2 separate regions of the Homo sapiens genome follow, and region 1 is linked to region 2. Evidence: fine-mapped expression QTL. A gene starts in region 2. The other region holds a variant in brackets. All regions are shown on one strand. Distances are from middle to middle.

Region 1 (8,322 bases), 25 kb after region 2:
GCAGGTGCTTTGATGGATGAGGGATGGAGTGGCTTCCCTCCGGGAATGAAGGTGTGCAGAAAGGGCCACGCGCCTGCGGGCTGGGTTGCAGGGCCTCTGAGGGATGGGCTCAGATGTGGAAGCTATAGGAATGCCTGGGCAAACTGGGCAGAAATACCACAACCTGGGCAGGCTTTGGGAGGTCCCCAGCCAAGCCCTAGGGAGAGGGAGAGGGGCTGCCAGCCCCCCGGCTTGGGCTCAGGGAAGCCATAGTGATTCTTCTCAGGATGGCCTGAACCTCCTGGAATTGTGATAAGCCCCAAAGACAGGATGAGGCTCCAGGAAAATGACTAATATCAGATTTCCTGTCAACCGTGGCAACGAGAGAAGGGGGCTCCCAGTCTATTTAATTAGATTTACCAAAATAAAGACGTGGCATTTCTTACACCTGAGTGCCATGCTGTGATGCATAGACTGAATTACAAATTGTGAGATGGGTGAGGTAAGAGGGGGTGGCCATAGAGATAGTGAAAAGTGGGCAAATTTGCTATTTAGCAGGAAGGCCAGGCAGGTCTTACTGATAGTTTGGAAGCTGAGGGTCGGAGACTGGTACTGAAAAGGATTTCCCGGTTTCTGGCTGAGAACTGGGTCAACCCGAGTGCATTCCCACCCACTTCCTCTAGACCATCCATCCACTCAGCGGCACAGACTCCCGAAAGTGTCGCTCCAGTCCGAGTTGGCTCCTGTCCCTTGTCCACATAGACCGTCTCCCCGCTCCCCCAATATGGCACAAGGTGCCTAGGCCGTGTGGGGCGTCGGCAGGTATCACGGGTGGGGTCCATTGTGTGAGGACTAACATCGCGGCCTTTCCCCAGACCAGCCACCGGGGACTCCAGAGAGGCCTCGGCCCAGCTCCCGGAAAGGGTCTCCCAGCCAGGCCTTCTAGCGGCCCAAAGCGGGTAGGCAGAGCGCAGATACCGGGGCCTCTTTCGCCCACCCTCGCCAGGGCACTATCCTTCCCACCGGCCCGATCCCGCGTCCCGAGGTCTCGCGGGGCCAGGCTGCACGGGCGGCGGAGCCCGGAGCCCGGGGCGGGGCCGGAGATGAGCCTGCAGGCGGGGGGCTGTGCGAGTGCGCGGGGACGGGGGCTGCTGTTTCCGAGCCGAGAGCCCTGGTAGCGGGGCTCTGTGGGCGGAGACGCCCTCCCGAGCCTGGGCATCTTCGGAGTGGGACTCTCGGGTCGGAGTTCCGCCGCCGGCCCATCCAGTTTCAGCGGGTCGCCTTTGCCTCTGGGCCGGGTGGGGAGCCTCCCATTCCAGAGACCCCCCGACTCCCTGCCCCTCGCGGCGTAGGGGCGCCCTTTCTGCGGCGCCGCGGGGCCGTCCTCTCCCCTCCCCGGGCGGCTGCAGCAGGGGCGCGGGAGCCCGCGGACTGCGGGGTTGCGGTCGCCCCTGCTTTGTGAGTTCCCGCAGCTGGGAGGAAGAAGGAGAGGAGGGAGGAGGGAGAGGTGGGGAAGGGGACGCCGCGGGAGACTGGGAAGTGGCTGCCGCAGGGAGGAGCTAGGCCTCGAGTGAAGCCTGCTTGTAAGAAGGGCCAGGAGAGTCGGGTGCGCCCCCGCCCTCCCTGCCCCACCCCAAGATGGGGACCCAGAGCCCCTCCTCCCGCACTGGGCCTTCTTTCTGGGTAGTGGAGGGCTGGACTGGACTGAGCTGGGAAGGCCTGCAGCTCAGAGGCGCTGCTCTGTGCGTCAGGACCGGCTTGCAAATGAAGATGTTGAGGGGCTGGCTCTGGGCTCATAGCAGAAACTGCCAGATCTAGCGGCCACCCCTCAGTCCTCATCTGCGCCGGCCCTCCCAGCTTTCGACCCGGCCTCACTGTCTCCTGATTGAATCACTCCGGGCACCACAGTTCCCTGGTTCCTCCTTACAGCTCCGGGCCAGCCCCTCTGAACTTTTTCTGGGCGATTCTCTCTGACCTCTTAAGTCCGCAACGCTTGGAACAGGACCCACATCTCTTTCCATTCTGACACTCTCTGAGGGAGCGCAGCGTCCTTCATGTGGGGCTTGTGACCATCCTCCCCCCAGCCCCAGGGCAGCTGACTACCAGGCCCTGTTTCCAGACGTCTCTTCAGAGGTCAAGCCTTGGTAGCCAGTGGCCTGGACATCTGCCCCCGGGTGTCTCGGAGGCCCTCAGGGAAACCTTGTTCTGCTTCTCAGAGATGGCGCCACGGTTCGCTTGGCCTGTGGAAACGTGTGTGTCATGGGACCTGGTGTGTGGGTCAGAGGAAGGACTGGGAGGAGGAGGAAGGTGTCCACATGCGATTTTTTTTTTTGAGACAGAGTCTCGCTCTATCGCCCGGGCTGGAGTGCAGTGGCTAGATCTCAGCTCACTGCAATCTCTGCCTCCCAGGTTCAAGCGATTCTCGTGCCTTAGCCTCCCAAGTAGCTGGGATTACAGGTGCCTGCCACTACACCCAGCTAATTTTGGTATATTTAGTAGAGACAGGGTTTCACCATGTTGGTCAGGCTGCTCTTGAACTCCTGACCTCAAATAATCCACCCACCTCGGCCTCCCAAAGTCCTGGGATTACAGCCGTGAGCCATCGAGCCCGACCTTCACACGCAATTCTTTAGCCTCAATGTGGCCTTGTCTTATCTTCAGGTTTCTGACTATTGGAGCTCATATGGCAGCAAGCTCTGAGGGCTACTTTTGTGTTGGGCCAAAAAAAGCCAACCTCACTGTGAAGAAACGTCTCTCTCTCTCTTTCTCTGTGTGTGTGTGTGTGTGTGTTTGTGTGTGTATAGACAAAACCCTAGTGCTGTTGGGAACGGGGTGAGGAGGCAGGCTTGGGGCCAGTTGGATGGGGAAGGCTTGCTTAGAAAACTAGACTATTTGGGTGTCCTCCATACTGTATTTCCTCTGATGATTTTCCTGTAAGAACTGAGCTGAGCTCCTTTGAAAGGGATAGCAGTATTCCTTGGGAGCCAGCTTTGGTGGGGGCAACTGGTGGAGCCTCCACCCTAGCTTCTTGGGGGCTCTGGGCTTTGAAAGGGAGGCTGTAATATGGCCTTGCGGCCCCTGCCAGTGGCATCCCGGCCGGACCCATCTTTGACTGAGGCTGAGCCCCAGGCCCGCTGGCAGCTCCCAGCCGTCCTCCCCACAGCCTGGCTGTGGCTGTTCCTCGGCCTGCCAGCCCCACAATCACAGCCCACAGGACGCACCCCCACTCCCTCCCTGATTTCCTGGAATTCAGAAAATGGATCACCCCTGCCTCGTCCTAGTTTTCCACCCCAGAGACCTGCCATACCCTTGGTCAAGTCCTCATGCAAACCAGATTCCTTTCATTCAAGGACTTTCAGAGGGAGCGTTACCCGGTCCTCAGCCACACCCATGCCGCCCTGTCTGCCCTGTCTGGACTGCCTAGACTCCATCAGAACTCCACAGCCACTTTCTCTGGAAAGCCTTCCTGGCTGCTCTTGCCAGGTGTTCTCTCTTCACTGGCCTCTCAAAGCCAGGTCTTGACTTGTCCTAGGGCCTCATCCCATACCATGTTTTATTGTCATAATATTCTTTCCCATAGTGACCCCAGTGCTCAGCACTGAGCCTGGCACAAAGTGCATGCTAAGGACAAGCTTGCTGCACGGAGAAATGAATGGGGACTTCAGATATACATACACACACACACACATATATATATACACGTATATATATATATATATATATATATACGTGTATATATATATATACGTGTATATATATATATACACACACACATACATACATACACATACACACGCTTTTTTTTTTTGAGACCGAGTCTCGCTCTGTCGCCCAGGCTGGAGCCAGGCTAGAGTGCAGTGGCACAATCTC[G/A]GCTCATTGCAACCTCTGCCTCCCAGGTTCAAGTGATTCTCCTGCCTCAGCCTCCTGAGTAGCTGGGTTTACAGGTGCCTGCCACCGCACCCAGCTAATTTTTTTATTTTTAGTAGAGACAGGGTTTTTACCATGTTGGCCAGGCTGGTCTCGAACTCCTGACCTCAGGTGATCCACCCACCTAAGCCTCCCGAAGTGCTGGGATTACAGGCGTGAGCCACTGTGCCTGGCTCTAGGTATATTCTTTAGAAGCTCTCAGTTGAGCTGTCATGGATATTGAATGAGGATTAGCAGGTGTTAGGTTATACAGTGTCCTGAGACTTATGATCAGAGCCTGGTTTCCTCAAGAAGTTTGACCCCTGGATGAGCTTTAAGGCTGAGCTCTTGGCAAACAACTGTCATCCAGAATTCCCCTGTGCCAGGTGGGTCCCTGCTCCTGTTTCATCTGCAGGCTTCAACTCAGCTACCCAGGGCTCAGCCTGCTGGGATTTGGCACCTCTTGTGAGGCTGTCATGGTATCTGACCCTTGCCTTATCCTGCCCACCTCCGTGATGGGGTCCTGTTTCCATCTAGCATCGCCTACCCACTCCCATCTCATGCTGACAACTCACAGGAACTGGTGCTTCTCAGACCCCTCTGGTCCAGACGGGTGAATGCAGAGCCTGACAGGCCCACCTATACACATGTATGCACCCCTGCCCAACAGAGACAGAGAGAAACATTGCTGAGCCAGAGGGACCATTTTTATTAGATTCCAGCAAGACTACTGTACATGTTTCATGCAGATTAAATATGTGTCTTCACTGCCCCTGGGAGGGGAGCACTCTCACTGTCAGCTCCTTCATTGGTGTGTCAAGGGGTGAGTGTCAAGGGGAGCTCTCAATGTATTCCGTATGGGGGGCAGTTGGGATCATGACTCGGGGTAGAGGTGAGACAGTAGGTAGCTGAGGGTCCCTGGGACCTTGAGTCTTCAGAGGTTCAGGGACTGCAGGACCTTGGTCCTTTGCTGGTACTGGCACCAGAGGATCTTGATCCTTCAGAGGCACTGGGACTATAGGAACTTGATTCTTCAGAGGTTCAGGGACTATACGACCTTGATTCTTTGGAGGCTGTAGGACTGTGGGGCCTTGATCCTTAACTAGTACTGGGAGAATGGGGTCTTGATTCTTCACGGACTCGGGGACCACAGGACCTTGATTCTTTACAGGTGCCACAACTGCAGAATCGTGAACCTTTGCATGCTCTGGGACTACAACATCTTGATCCTTGACTGGCCCTGAGACCACTAAACCTTGATTCTTTACAGGCTCAGAGACCATGGAACCTTGATTCTTTATGGGTGCTGTGGCCATGGCACTTTCATCCTTCGGATGCTCTGGGACCATGGGATCTTGATCCTTGATAGGTGCTGAGACCATGGGACCTTCATCCTTGACAGGTGCTGGGACTATGGGACCTTCACCCTTGACAGGTGCTGGGACTATGGGACCTTGATCCTTGACAGGTGCTGAGACCATGGGACCTTGATCCTTGACAGATGCTGAGACCATGGGACCTTCATCCTTGACAGGTGCTGGGACCATAGGAGCTTGATTCTTCACAGGCTCAGGAATCCTAGGACCTTGATCCTTTAGAGACTCTGGTACCACAGAGCCTTGATCCTTAACTTTTGCTGGAACCATAGGACTTTGATTCTTTGGAGGAACTGGGACCGAGGGACCTTGGTCCTTGACTGGTGCTGAGATAACAGGGCTTTCATTCTTTAAAGGCTCAGGGACCGTGTGATCTTGATCCTTGACTGGTAATGGGATCATGGGACCTAGATCCTTTGGAGGCCCTGGGACCACAGAACCTTGCTTCTTCAGAGGCTCTTGCACCATAGGACCTTGACCTTTCAGAAGGCCTGGGACCACAGAACCTTGATCCTTGTCTGGCTCTGTGGCTACAGGACCTTGAGTCTTACTTGAATCACTGACGGGTTGAGCCAGGCTCCTGCAAAGGAGAGAGAGGTGATCACTGTGAGAGTAGAGCTCAGGCAGGGACAGGGCAGAGTACAGATTGCCTAATAAGTCTTGGCCTAGTGGAGCCTGGGCCGGGCAGCTCTTGCTGGAGAGCCAGGAGAATATGATTTCTGTGTTCTTAGTACAGAATGTGGGCGGGGGTGAGGGAGGGGGGTGAGGTGAAGGCTCAGGAATCAGTCATTCAATGTGCTTGCCAATTGATTATAACCTGCACGTGGCACAGGGGGTGGCACGCTGGTGACAATGGCAGTACTGTAGCTGGACTCGGAGTCATCCAGTAGGCATCCCAGCAGCCCGTCCACCCCACATTCCATCCAGGTCCCTACTTTTTCTTCTAGGATCGTTGGGCCCATCCTGGGAGCCCCATCTCAGCTGCCCACCAGATGCCCCCACAGGCCAGGGTGCTCTTTTCTTGTTCTCAGGGCCTTCAAAGTTCTTTTGCCTCCCTGACTCCCTGACCCCCTTGTTAAGTGCTGGCTGCAAGAAGGGGCAAGGGGTCCATGGCATACCAGGAAAGGAAGCAGTGGGAATGCCCCTCTCTCCCTCTCCTGCAAGGGGAAAAGTATTTTATCACTGACATTGTATAGAATGAGCAGCATATAGTGATAATAAAAAGCAGGCCAGCTATTAGTTTTTTGTTATTTGTTTTTGTAGAGACGGGGCCTCACTATGTCACCTAGGCTGTTCTCCAGCTCCTGACCTCAAGTGATCCTCCCACCTCAGCCTCCTGAATAGCTGGACTACAGGCAGCTTTTAGCTTTATTGCTTTAAATTCTCCATAGACAGTGCGCCCTGTGATTGCATGCACCACTCCCACTACCCCCAACCTTTGCTAGGTGACTCAATGGGACTCCGCTTTCAGGTAGGGATGAGGCCCTGATCCCCTAACTCCATTCCCACTTCTGGCTCTCTCTGCTCTCCTGAGACCTTTGCCCTCACCAACTTCCAGGCTCTTGGGCTTATTTCCCTATAGCCAAGAGTCCCAGTCTTTCATCAGAATCCTCAGGCACTGTTCCCTCGCCTCACTGTGGCCGTCTGCCTCATCCCCTGGCCCACCCACACTGTGGAGAGCGTGTGACAACACTAACACTCAAAGGCAAGCATTGCCACACTTAGACCCGGCCAGCCTGGAGCCCTCTGGTTTAGAGTGCACACTCCTTCCTTGCAGGCCATGTTGGAAGTCGAGAGAGTGGCATTGCTCAGCAAGCATCACAGGCCCTTGCACGCCTACAACACATCCAGCTTTCCGAATGGCTCCCTTTTATAGCTCATTTCAGCAACAGAGCAGCCCTGTGAAGCACACAGGAAGGATTTTCTTACCCTTACTTGTCTGATGAAGAAAATGAGGTCATGAGAGGACAAGTGATGGGGAAAGTGAGGGGACCCCCACGGACTAGCATCTGGATCCTTCCGCTCCTGGATCCTGTGCTCTTTCCCTTAGTGTGCCTGGCACATAGTAGGTGCTCAATGCAAGGTGACTATTACTATTACTCTATTTATTGGGTATAATGATATTTACTCAGAAATCTATAATGATTAGAGGTCAGCACCTAGAGCACCTTGTACTATGGTATTATTGGGTAGTATTATGGTTGTTTTTCTGTTTACTTAGAAGTAAAATTATGTGTATTTGGACTGCTTTTATTCTTCTGTGTTGTCCTGATGCAGAAGCTTTTTACTGTATTTAGCATCCTGAGCCACCCAGGGACTGGTATTTCTCAGCAGAGTCCACACAGCACAGGCAACCTCTCCATCTAGTTCCCCTGGCTGTCCCTGAGCATCACAGTGGAAGGGGCCAGGGCAGCTCTCTGGCTCAGCATGATATGGAACACAGCTGCTCTGGCCAGATAGACACAGTTGGCTGCTATCAGTAGGACCTTAGTGTTTGAGAAGAGAGCCAGGCAAGGCTGTGAGAAGCATGTGGAATCCAAAAATGGCATTAAAATACCTCCAGTCACTGGTGGCTGGTCAGAGAGGAAAAAAGAAAAACCGAATTCAGAACAGAGCCAAGCAGGAAATTGATTAGGTGTATTCTCTTAGATTGTGAAGCGACCTGGGTGGTGTCCTCCCAACAGGGTGAGGAAGCTGAGAAGGGACAAAAGAAAAAAAAGGGAGCTTAACTCCATCTCAGGGGCTTGGGCTGCAGAACCTATCCCAAGGGTAGGACATGGGCCTGGAGTCTCCTGCTGGCCTGGAGGTCACAAAGAAGGCCAGCCCTGCAGCCTGGGCCAGGAAGTACATTTCCTTGGATATCTACAGCATTGGCTCCTGTGCCACCTACCAAATTTCTGTTTAATGGGCTCTTCTGTTTAATGAGCCAGTTGTGAGCTAGCCTCAACTTTGCATGGATACATAACCCCATATTGCTTAGGTTAGAAAACTTTTTTCTTTAGTGGGTATCTTTAATCATGGGAAGGTTATAATTAAGATTAAAATGATGAATTAAATCAAG
Region 2 (8,322 bases):
TATTCATTATTTTATCTGTGTGTCTCATCATCCTGCAGACTATCAGTCCTATTTTACAGAGGGGTAATTTAAATCATGGGTACATAGCCAAGAAGTGGCAGACCTGGGGCAGGATCCCAGGTCTCCTAACCCCCAAGTGAGGGCATTTCACACTCCATAGCACAGCAGGGCTGAACTGGGCTGAAGCAGATTAGAGGTGGTTTGGCAGGGTGTAGGGGGTGGTCAGAGCTCAGGAGTCCCTTTTCTGAGTGTCAGGGATGCTAAGACAAGGGAGGACAGCCCTGTAGCCCACCTGGGCATCACTGTTATTACAGGCTCAGCAGCACCTAAGGGAGAGGAGAACAAGACGGGAAGGGAAAGGCAGGGCTGTAGTTAACACACATCCTCCATCCCACCAGCCCTTCAGGCCTGGTCTTGCAGGCACTGGAGCTGGTTCCATGGGTTGCCAGAGGAAGCCTGAGAGAGGGAGGCTGGGAGAGGGGGCGGGGAACCTGATCCTGTGTATATGTCAATACCCAACAAAAACTTGTGTAGGGGGGTGGGGTGCATTTGGGTTACTGGAGTTACACAGACATGTGTGTACATGGATTGTGTGAAGGGGCTGCTCAAGTGCCGTGTGTGCACCATGTATGTGGGTGCACATACGCCTGTGTATATAGCGAGTCAGTGGGCTTGTGTCTCCTGGGTATTGTGCCAGGCATGTGGGTGAAGGCGCTGGAGTTCCTATGTGGCTTCGCTCAGCACCAGGATTGCAGACGGGTAGGGGCGGGCCTGCTCTGGGAGGAGGAGGGGAGGAATCATGTGCCCACCCACCCCCACATGGACCGGCTGCCCACCCTCCAACGTGGCAGCACGCAGGACAGCCCTTTTTGGATGGAAGGCCCCACGCTCCAAGAGAGAGAATCCAAGATTACAGAAATCGTGTTTTCCTGACTCATGCCTTGGGCTGAGAGCACATTCTTGGCTCCTGGACAGCATCTCAAAGAAGAGCTGCCTATAGCAGCCCTGGCTCCCTGAGGGAGGGGGCCGACCCTGGACTGGCTGTCGGAGCTTTCTGGGCTCCAATTTTATACCAATGTAAAAAGAAGGGGATTAAACTTCCTTCCGATTAACGTTCTATAATTAAAAGTGAGACACTAATGACGGTGCCCAGCACAGGCCTGGCAGCGGCAAAATGGCCCATAAATGTCACTTCCTTCTCGTCCACTCCCTGCCTTCCCGTGGATATGGCATAAACAGACCTGATTCAAAACCCAGCTCTGACTCTGGCTTGTTGTGTGCCCTTAACCCTGTTGCTTAGTCTCCCTGATCCTCAGTTTCTTCATGCTGAAAATTGGAACATTCTTCCTTACCTGAAAGGAATAAATATGATAATAAATGTGAATGTGTTGCACACTTAAATGACATGCAAGTTTTTGTCCTAGGATTCTATGGGGTGAAGACTGAGTGAATCTAGCCACTGGGGCCAAAGAAAGCTGTTTCCACAGCACCTGGCAGAACTGGGCCTACATACCCCCCTGGGTCATTAGAGGGTACTGTGGGAGAAAGAGGGCTGGGAGTCCAGGGCTTAGGCTCCAGCCCAGCCCCACCTCTGATATGCTGTGTGACCTTGGGTAAATTCCTGCCCTCTCTGGGCTTCCGTTGTCCTCTCTGTATAGTGTGGATGCAGTTGGACTTGATGGTTTTCTACTTTCTGCTGTCCACACCTCTCGGGACCTAGGGATCTAGAGGATTTCCAGCCAGCCTCCACGTGCCAGGCACCAGGACCACTTCCTTCAGTGAAGCGAGGCACTGGAGGAGTCCAGAGACAAAATGCTTGAGAGTTTCTCTGCTTATCAGACTCTTCTCCCCCACCCCCTAAAAGAGTGCTTTTTCCGGAAAGCTCTGCCTGGAATGTGGGGGAAGGGCCACAGTCAGTCTGGGCTGGGCTCAGAGCTAAGAATATTGTGGCAAAGGCTCTTGACTTTTTTTTTTTTTGCTGATCTTGGAAATTTAAAGGAGCCGTTGCTTTCCCTTCTTCAGGGAGGCTGTGCTAGGGGCACAGCAGCCTCAGGCAGCCACTTCTCATCCCCTGGCCAGCCATGCTTACCCAGTGCCTCTTCCATACTGTCCCCTTGCTGGAGCTGGGGACTCACAGTGACAAGGAAAAGGCCCTGCCCTTCCAAAGTCTCCAGTGATGGTTCACTGACAATACAGGGTGATAACAGAGATAATGCAGCAGTGGGATAGGTCACAGAGGAGGCTTCTGACCCGGTGTGAGATTAGTGGGGGTCGGATGGGGGTTGGGCCTTCAGACCCAGCCCTCCTTAGGCCTCAGCTTTGCTGTCTGTAAGGGCAGGTCCTCTCTTCAGTGACCACTCATGATACTGGGTCTATTTAACAGCATGAGCTTTGGTTTATCCCTCAAAATGGGACAGTCACAGCACTCTCAGTCTCCCCCTCAGGTGTTGGTGAAGCCTAAAAGAGCTAAGAGATGTAAGAGAGTAGAGGAAGGGAGTCTCACTGGGATTGTGACATCTGAACCTGCTGAAAACCCAGGCGACCCTCTCTGTTTTGCCAGCATTGATGGGCACTCTTTGTTTCTGCTCTGCCCTGCCCTCAGCTCACTGACCAAGTCACAAGGAAGCCTGAGGGCCAATGTGGGGGTGGGAGTAGAGAGTGGGGTCTGGCCTGGGACCCGGGAGGTCTCCTTGGATAAACAAGAATTTATCTTTTTTTTTTGAGATGGAGTCTCGCTCTGTCACCCATGCTGGAGTGCAGTGGCATGATCTCGGCTCACTGCAAACTCCACCTCCCAGGTTCAAGAGATTCTCCCGCCTCAGCCTCCTGAGTAGCTGGGATTACAGGCACATGACACCACAGCTGGCTAATTTTCATATTTTTATTAGAGATGGGGTTTCACCATTTTGGCCACGCTGATCTTGAACTGCTGACCTCAGGTGATCCACCCACCTCGGCCTTCCAAAGTGCTGGGATTACAGGCATGAGCCACCGCGCCCAGCCTAGAATTTATCTTTAAAAGCAATATACAGTTGAGGCAGGAGGAAGCACATGAGAACCACGACAGCCACCCCAAAGAGATGGACACCATGCCAAGGCTGGAAGCTTTTGTTAATAATCAGACCTGTCCTAAAAAAGAATGCGGGGCTGCCTCTGAAGGAGGTAAGCTCTCTCTTCTTAGAGGTGCCTCGGTGCTTGCCTTTTTGGGATACTGAGAAGAGGGCTTCTGCCTGGGGCTGCAGACAGGAACCCCTGACCTCTGAGATGCCTTGCAGCTCAGAGTCTTTAATACATTTATTCCAGAATCCTTCGACTCTGAGATTTTAACATGTTAAGATTCCTTAGCTGGATTCAAAGACTCCTTGGGGGCTTTGAGTGGAAGTAATCTCTGATTCCTTGACCCTGAATCACAGAGTCTGAAGCTTTTGGGATCTGAGATTTCCCACAGTCCTTGTACTCAAAAGACTCTGAGCTGCAGAAGCCTACCCAGACAGAGAGGTTTGTCACCACCACCAGGCTTCCCCACAACCACTAACAGAGGGCAGGGACCCAGGTGATTGACTCATTTGCTGGGTACTGGGATTTTTTTGCTCCCCAGGATCCAGGCAAGCACCTAGAAGAAAGAAGATACTCAATGCATTCATTCATGACTGAATGAATGAAGAGTCCCTACCCTGTCCCTTCCTCTCCATACTGCGTCCATCCAATAGCTATCATTAAACTACTAAAGAGGACTTTTCGGAGGGTAGGGAGCCTCGGCTGATCAGAAATTGAGCCACTGTCGCCCAGATTATTTAGGGTTTCCTAAATAATCTGCCTCACTGAATCACTGAATTCCCTACTAACAGGTACATACCCCACAGATGGACATCGCACAGGGCAAGGACTTTGTTCAGCTCTCAGCTGTGTCCTCAGCACCTAGAACAGTAATGAATACCCTAGCTTAACTTGGAGGTCAAGGAGCTATCAGTTTGCGAGGGTGGGGTAGGAATTGACAGTGAGACCTGAGGCCTGTGGGAGGGGACCCAAAGAGGGAGGGGATGCAATAGGGAGGGGGCCAGGGGTGACAAGGATTGAGGAAGGGAGAGAGGGGGGAAAAAAAGCAAGGGATGCCTTAGAACCACATTTCACAGCCAAGGGAACAGAGGCCCAGAAAGGGAAAGTAACCTGCTTAGGGTCACACAGCACCTTGCTCAGTGGAGAGCCAGGTTTTCCTTCCTGTGCACTCCTCCAAGCCCAGCCAGACCACCTGAAGTTCCCCAGGCATCTCTGCCTCTATTACTCCACGACTTGAACTTTCCGGGTGCCGGGCAGGTACCGGGTCTGGTCTGCTCCCTCTCCCTCTGGCCATCGCTGAGGTTGAGGTTTTTTGAATGTACAAGTATGGAGAAGGGCACTGCCTTCAGAAGCCTGAACGTCTCCCCTGAGAGGGAGGGGGTGCACAGGACTCAATTGTTTCAGCTTGAAAATGGGGGAGAGCGGGGAGAAGGGGAGATGGCTCTGCTTGGGGCAGAGCCCCTGCGGGGAAAGGGGCGCCTGAAAGGACGTGCGATTCGGAGTGGGCTAGCTTATGCAGAGAGCCTGGGGGTGGGAGGAAGCTCGCACTCTGAAGGACACGCTGATCCCCGTGGGGACTCCCGGCGCCCCGCAGCCCGGGCCGCCGAGGGAGGCAGTAGGACCCAGGGGCCGGGAGGCGCCGGCAGAGGGAGGGGCCGGGGGCCGGGGAGGTTTTGAGGGAGGTCTTTGGCTTTTTTTGGCGGAGCTGGGGCGCCCTCCGGAAGCGTTTCCAACTTTCCAGAAGTTTCTCGGGACGGGCAGGAGGGGGTGGGGACTGCCATATATAGATCCCGGGAGCAGGGGAGCGGGCTAAGAGTAGAATCGTGTCGCGGCTCGAGAGCGAGAGTCACGTCCCGGCGCTAGCCCAGCCCGACCCAGGTGAGGGGCGGGAGACGCCTGCGTGCGTGCGGCCCGGGGGAGCGCCGAGCAATCTGGGGGTGCGCGAGGGAGTAAGAGGGGCGAGGGGACCCTGCGAAGCGTTGGGTGCCGAGCCAGAGCCTACAAATTGGAGTCCTCGGCACTTTGGGGGCCGCTGGAGGGTTTGGAATCGAGAGCCCAGGGCTAGCCAGTGATGGTGCCAGCTGAGGGCTAGGGCGGAGATCGGAGCCGGGTTGGGAGTCCGTGCACTCGGAGGACTGGGAAAAAGTGCAGGGACCCCTAAAAGGTGGTGGTGGCAGATACGAGACTAGGTGCTGTGTAAAGGGGGCTGGGGGCAGAGAGCAGAGCCTCTGCGGAAAGAAACAGAGGAGGAAGGAGATGGGTCTGGTGCCTCTTCCCGCAAGGGTAGGGAGGATAGGCCGGCCTCGCAGTTCCAGGTCACTTCCGTTCTGGGGTTGAGGCTCAGGGGCAGCGGTGATTGGTGGCCCAGCCTCCTCACAGGCTTGCTGAGGGAATTTGAGCTTCCGGTGGTGGGAAAGGAGGTGAAATCGTCTCGACTCCTGGGGTCCGTGTGCTCTGGTAGAAGTGGGCGACAGTGGCTCAATTTCTGATCAGCAGCTTGCAGCCTAGATGATGGCAGCCAAAGGAAAGACTTGGCCAGCGAGGCTCCCTACCACTCCGAAAAAAGAGAGTGGGGGTCAGCAGGGTCTGCTCTGCTCTGGGGATTAAGGGGCTGACTAGAAGGATTTGAGTCTTTCCTTCTGTCCACTGCCACAGGGTTCTTGGAGTAACTGCAGGGTTTAAACTGCAGGGTCTAACTTCCAGAGGCTGGGGTTCCCTGCCCCCCAGCTTAGAGACATTCCTGAGGTGGCTGAAGAGCAGGAAGGAGAATGAATGCACTTCCAGACTGGCCCAGAGTCTCAGCCCCTCCTCTTCCTTGTTTCCCGCTGGTCCCTCTGGGCTGTACGGCCCGGATGGAGGCCTGAGGAAAATGAGGGGGCTTTGGTTCTCCGGAATTCCGGCCGGGGCCACACCCTCCTGTCTTCAGATGGTTCATGTACCCATCCCCCCTTCCCGTCCTCTCCTTTGTCTCCTCTGTCACCGGGACTCCCAGCAGAGATTTTTTTTTTGTACTGGCTGTGTAACAGGACACCGCATGCAGCCCTCAGGAGGGGCTCTGTGCTTCTGTGAGGAAGGACCCCTGTGCTGGGAAGGCAGACCCCTGTTTATCCCGAGGGACCTGGGGTGACCCCCTGCCCTGGCCTTGTTTCTCCCATTTTACAGTGAGGTGGTCGATCTCCAAGGTCCCTGTAGATTGGGGACTGGTTGTGCCCTCTGCGCCAGGGGCCTCCTCACCATCTCTCCTTTGCCGGCTCCCGCCCTCTTCACTCTTCTGTTTTCTTTCAGAATGAAAAAGGCAGGCATTGACCTCCCTCTGAGGCAGTTTCCAGGTACTTTAGACCTCTCAAGTGTTTGGGACCCTCTGGTGGGGTCCCATCATCTCCTCCCCTTCCCTTCCAGACCCTGCTCAGTCCAGCTAGCTGTGGGCACAGCCCTGGCTAGGTGATCTTGTATTTTCTTTGTGGGACTGTAACTCAGCTAACCTTGGCCTGAGGGCTGGCATTTCTCTGTGGCAAGATGGGCTGGGCTGTGGGAGGCTGGCCTGCTTGCAGTAACTTGCCTTCCCCCATTCCTGCTGCTGGGTTCAGTGGGGCTGCCCTTCTCCCCAGTAGCGCATTTCCCTTCAGAGATTCATGTGCGGATGGGAAGGGAACTAAGGCCAAGAAGGCTCCTGGAGTCCCCTGGCAAATATGTGGCACCCCCTGGGACCTGAGTCAGGCCTGCTTCCCAGGCTGGAAGCCCCCCTCTGCCGGCCGGTGGAGATAGTTCAGCCTCCTGCCTGCCACGTCACCACCAGGAGCAGGCGCTAAGCTGCTGCGGGCCTAGCGGGCTGCCTGAGGAATCCCAAACCAGTTATTTGGAGCTTGCTTGAGAAGCCCCTCCCAGTCCTTTGAGGTTCTGGCTGGTGGGGGTGGGGGCTGTCAAGATGGTACCTGCCACGTGGCATGGCTGGGAGTGGGCTCTTCAGCTGCCTCCTCAGGGAAGGAAGGCTGTTGGCCTCTGCTGTGGTCTGAGCTCCAGCATCACTGGTCTGGATCAGAGGTGGCTTTTGAGTAGGGTGGCCATATGCCTATTGTCCTGGCATAATAATTAGTAGTGCCCATTTTACTCTTATAAGTGTCCTTGTTTGTGCAATAAATTATATGGTTGCTCTGCCTTTGAGGCTCCAGTTCTGGCAGGGAAGGAGCCAGAGCTGGGAGGGAGGTGTCTTGGGGTTTATTCTAGGCCCCAAGATATCCCCTTCATTTTAGGGTGAGACTCAGATCTCCCCGCTCCTTCCAGACATTTTTAGATCTCTGGGCCTTCCCTCCTCTCCCCACCTCCCTCCCCTTGGACCCTTTGCTTATCTTATACTGCACCTTCAAGGCTCCGAGGAGGGAGGCAGTCCCGGGAGATGGGGAGCCTGTCCAGGTTTTTGGGATGGCAGCAGTAGAATCTTCCCAGAAATACAGTGGTCCCCAGGCAGCCAGAGTCCTGAGGGTCTTCCACCAGGATTTCAAATGTTCGGTCTTCTTCAAGGATGACTACAAGTTGGGATCTACCAGAGCAGTGGGATCGCAGCCTCCACCAGGATTCCTTCTATCCTTCCCTTTGCCCTGTCATCTCTCCTGTGCTGTTGCATGATGTAGAGGAGGATAATGGCCCGAAGGGAGAGAGGGAGTGTGGAAGTATCCCAGGAACAGAGACTGTCCAAATTGGAGGCCCCAGAGAGGGAACTGGGGCTTGTCCTTGGGGCCACTGCTACTGCTGGGGCTTGGGGAGGAGGCCTGAGGGCAACCCTGAAGCCGTGGAGCAGATGGCCTGTGTGGCAGTGGCTGTCAGATTGGAGGGCAGAATGGAATCTGATGTGGCTCCAGCTTCTTTGAAGGCTGAGTGCACATCTGGCCAGCTGCTGGTGATGGGGAAGGGGGTCACTGCTCTATTGAGCTATGTGTGACTCACCCTTTTCCCTAGTATCCTGTCCTTGTGCTATGTCAGGAAGCCTCCTCCCCAGCCCCACCGAGTCTTCAAAGGAGTTGGTCCCCCAGGAGCTTTTGTCCTGGGGATTTCCCATCCGCACTGGGAGCACTGTGGGTAGATGGGCATTCCAAGTTCCTGCCCAGACAGAAGCCATGGGCATGGAGACCTGGACCTTTCAGCTTGGAAAAGGGAGACTGAGGCTGAGTGGACACAGGACACACACACACACACTCTCAGGGTCACCCTTGGGGCAGCAAAGTGGAGCATCTTGGCTCCCCATTTAATGAGTGACCCAACTGGTGACTC

The links.
Region 1: its variant is fine-mapped to the expression of SERPINH1 in whole blood (TOPMed, PIP 0.97).

The regions. Positions count from the first base shown.
Region 1 is chr11:75,582,344-75,590,665 of GRCh38, forward strand. It overlaps MAP6 (microtubule associated protein 6), which reads right to left. Exons shown (of 4, transcript NM_033063.2): 4 at 4,575-5,841. The coding sequence ends at 4,716. It overlaps MAP6-AS1 (MAP6 antisense RNA 1), which reads left to right and starts at 853. Exons shown (of 2, transcript NR_145823.1): 1 at 853-938. RefSeq lists silencers at 871-980, 991-1,140 and an enhancer at 1,887-2,466. The variant G/A (reference allele first, on the strand shown) is at 3,850.
Region 2 is chr11:75,557,385-75,565,706 of GRCh38, forward strand. It overlaps SERPINH1 (serpin family H member 1), which reads left to right and starts at 4,869. Exons shown (of 5, transcript NM_001235.5): 1 at 4,869-4,935. RefSeq lists cis regulatory regions at 860-1,090, 1,563-2,413, enhancers at 1,426-1,967, 4,549-5,088, 5,089-5,629, 5,630-6,168 and silencers at 4,605-4,864, 4,875-4,924.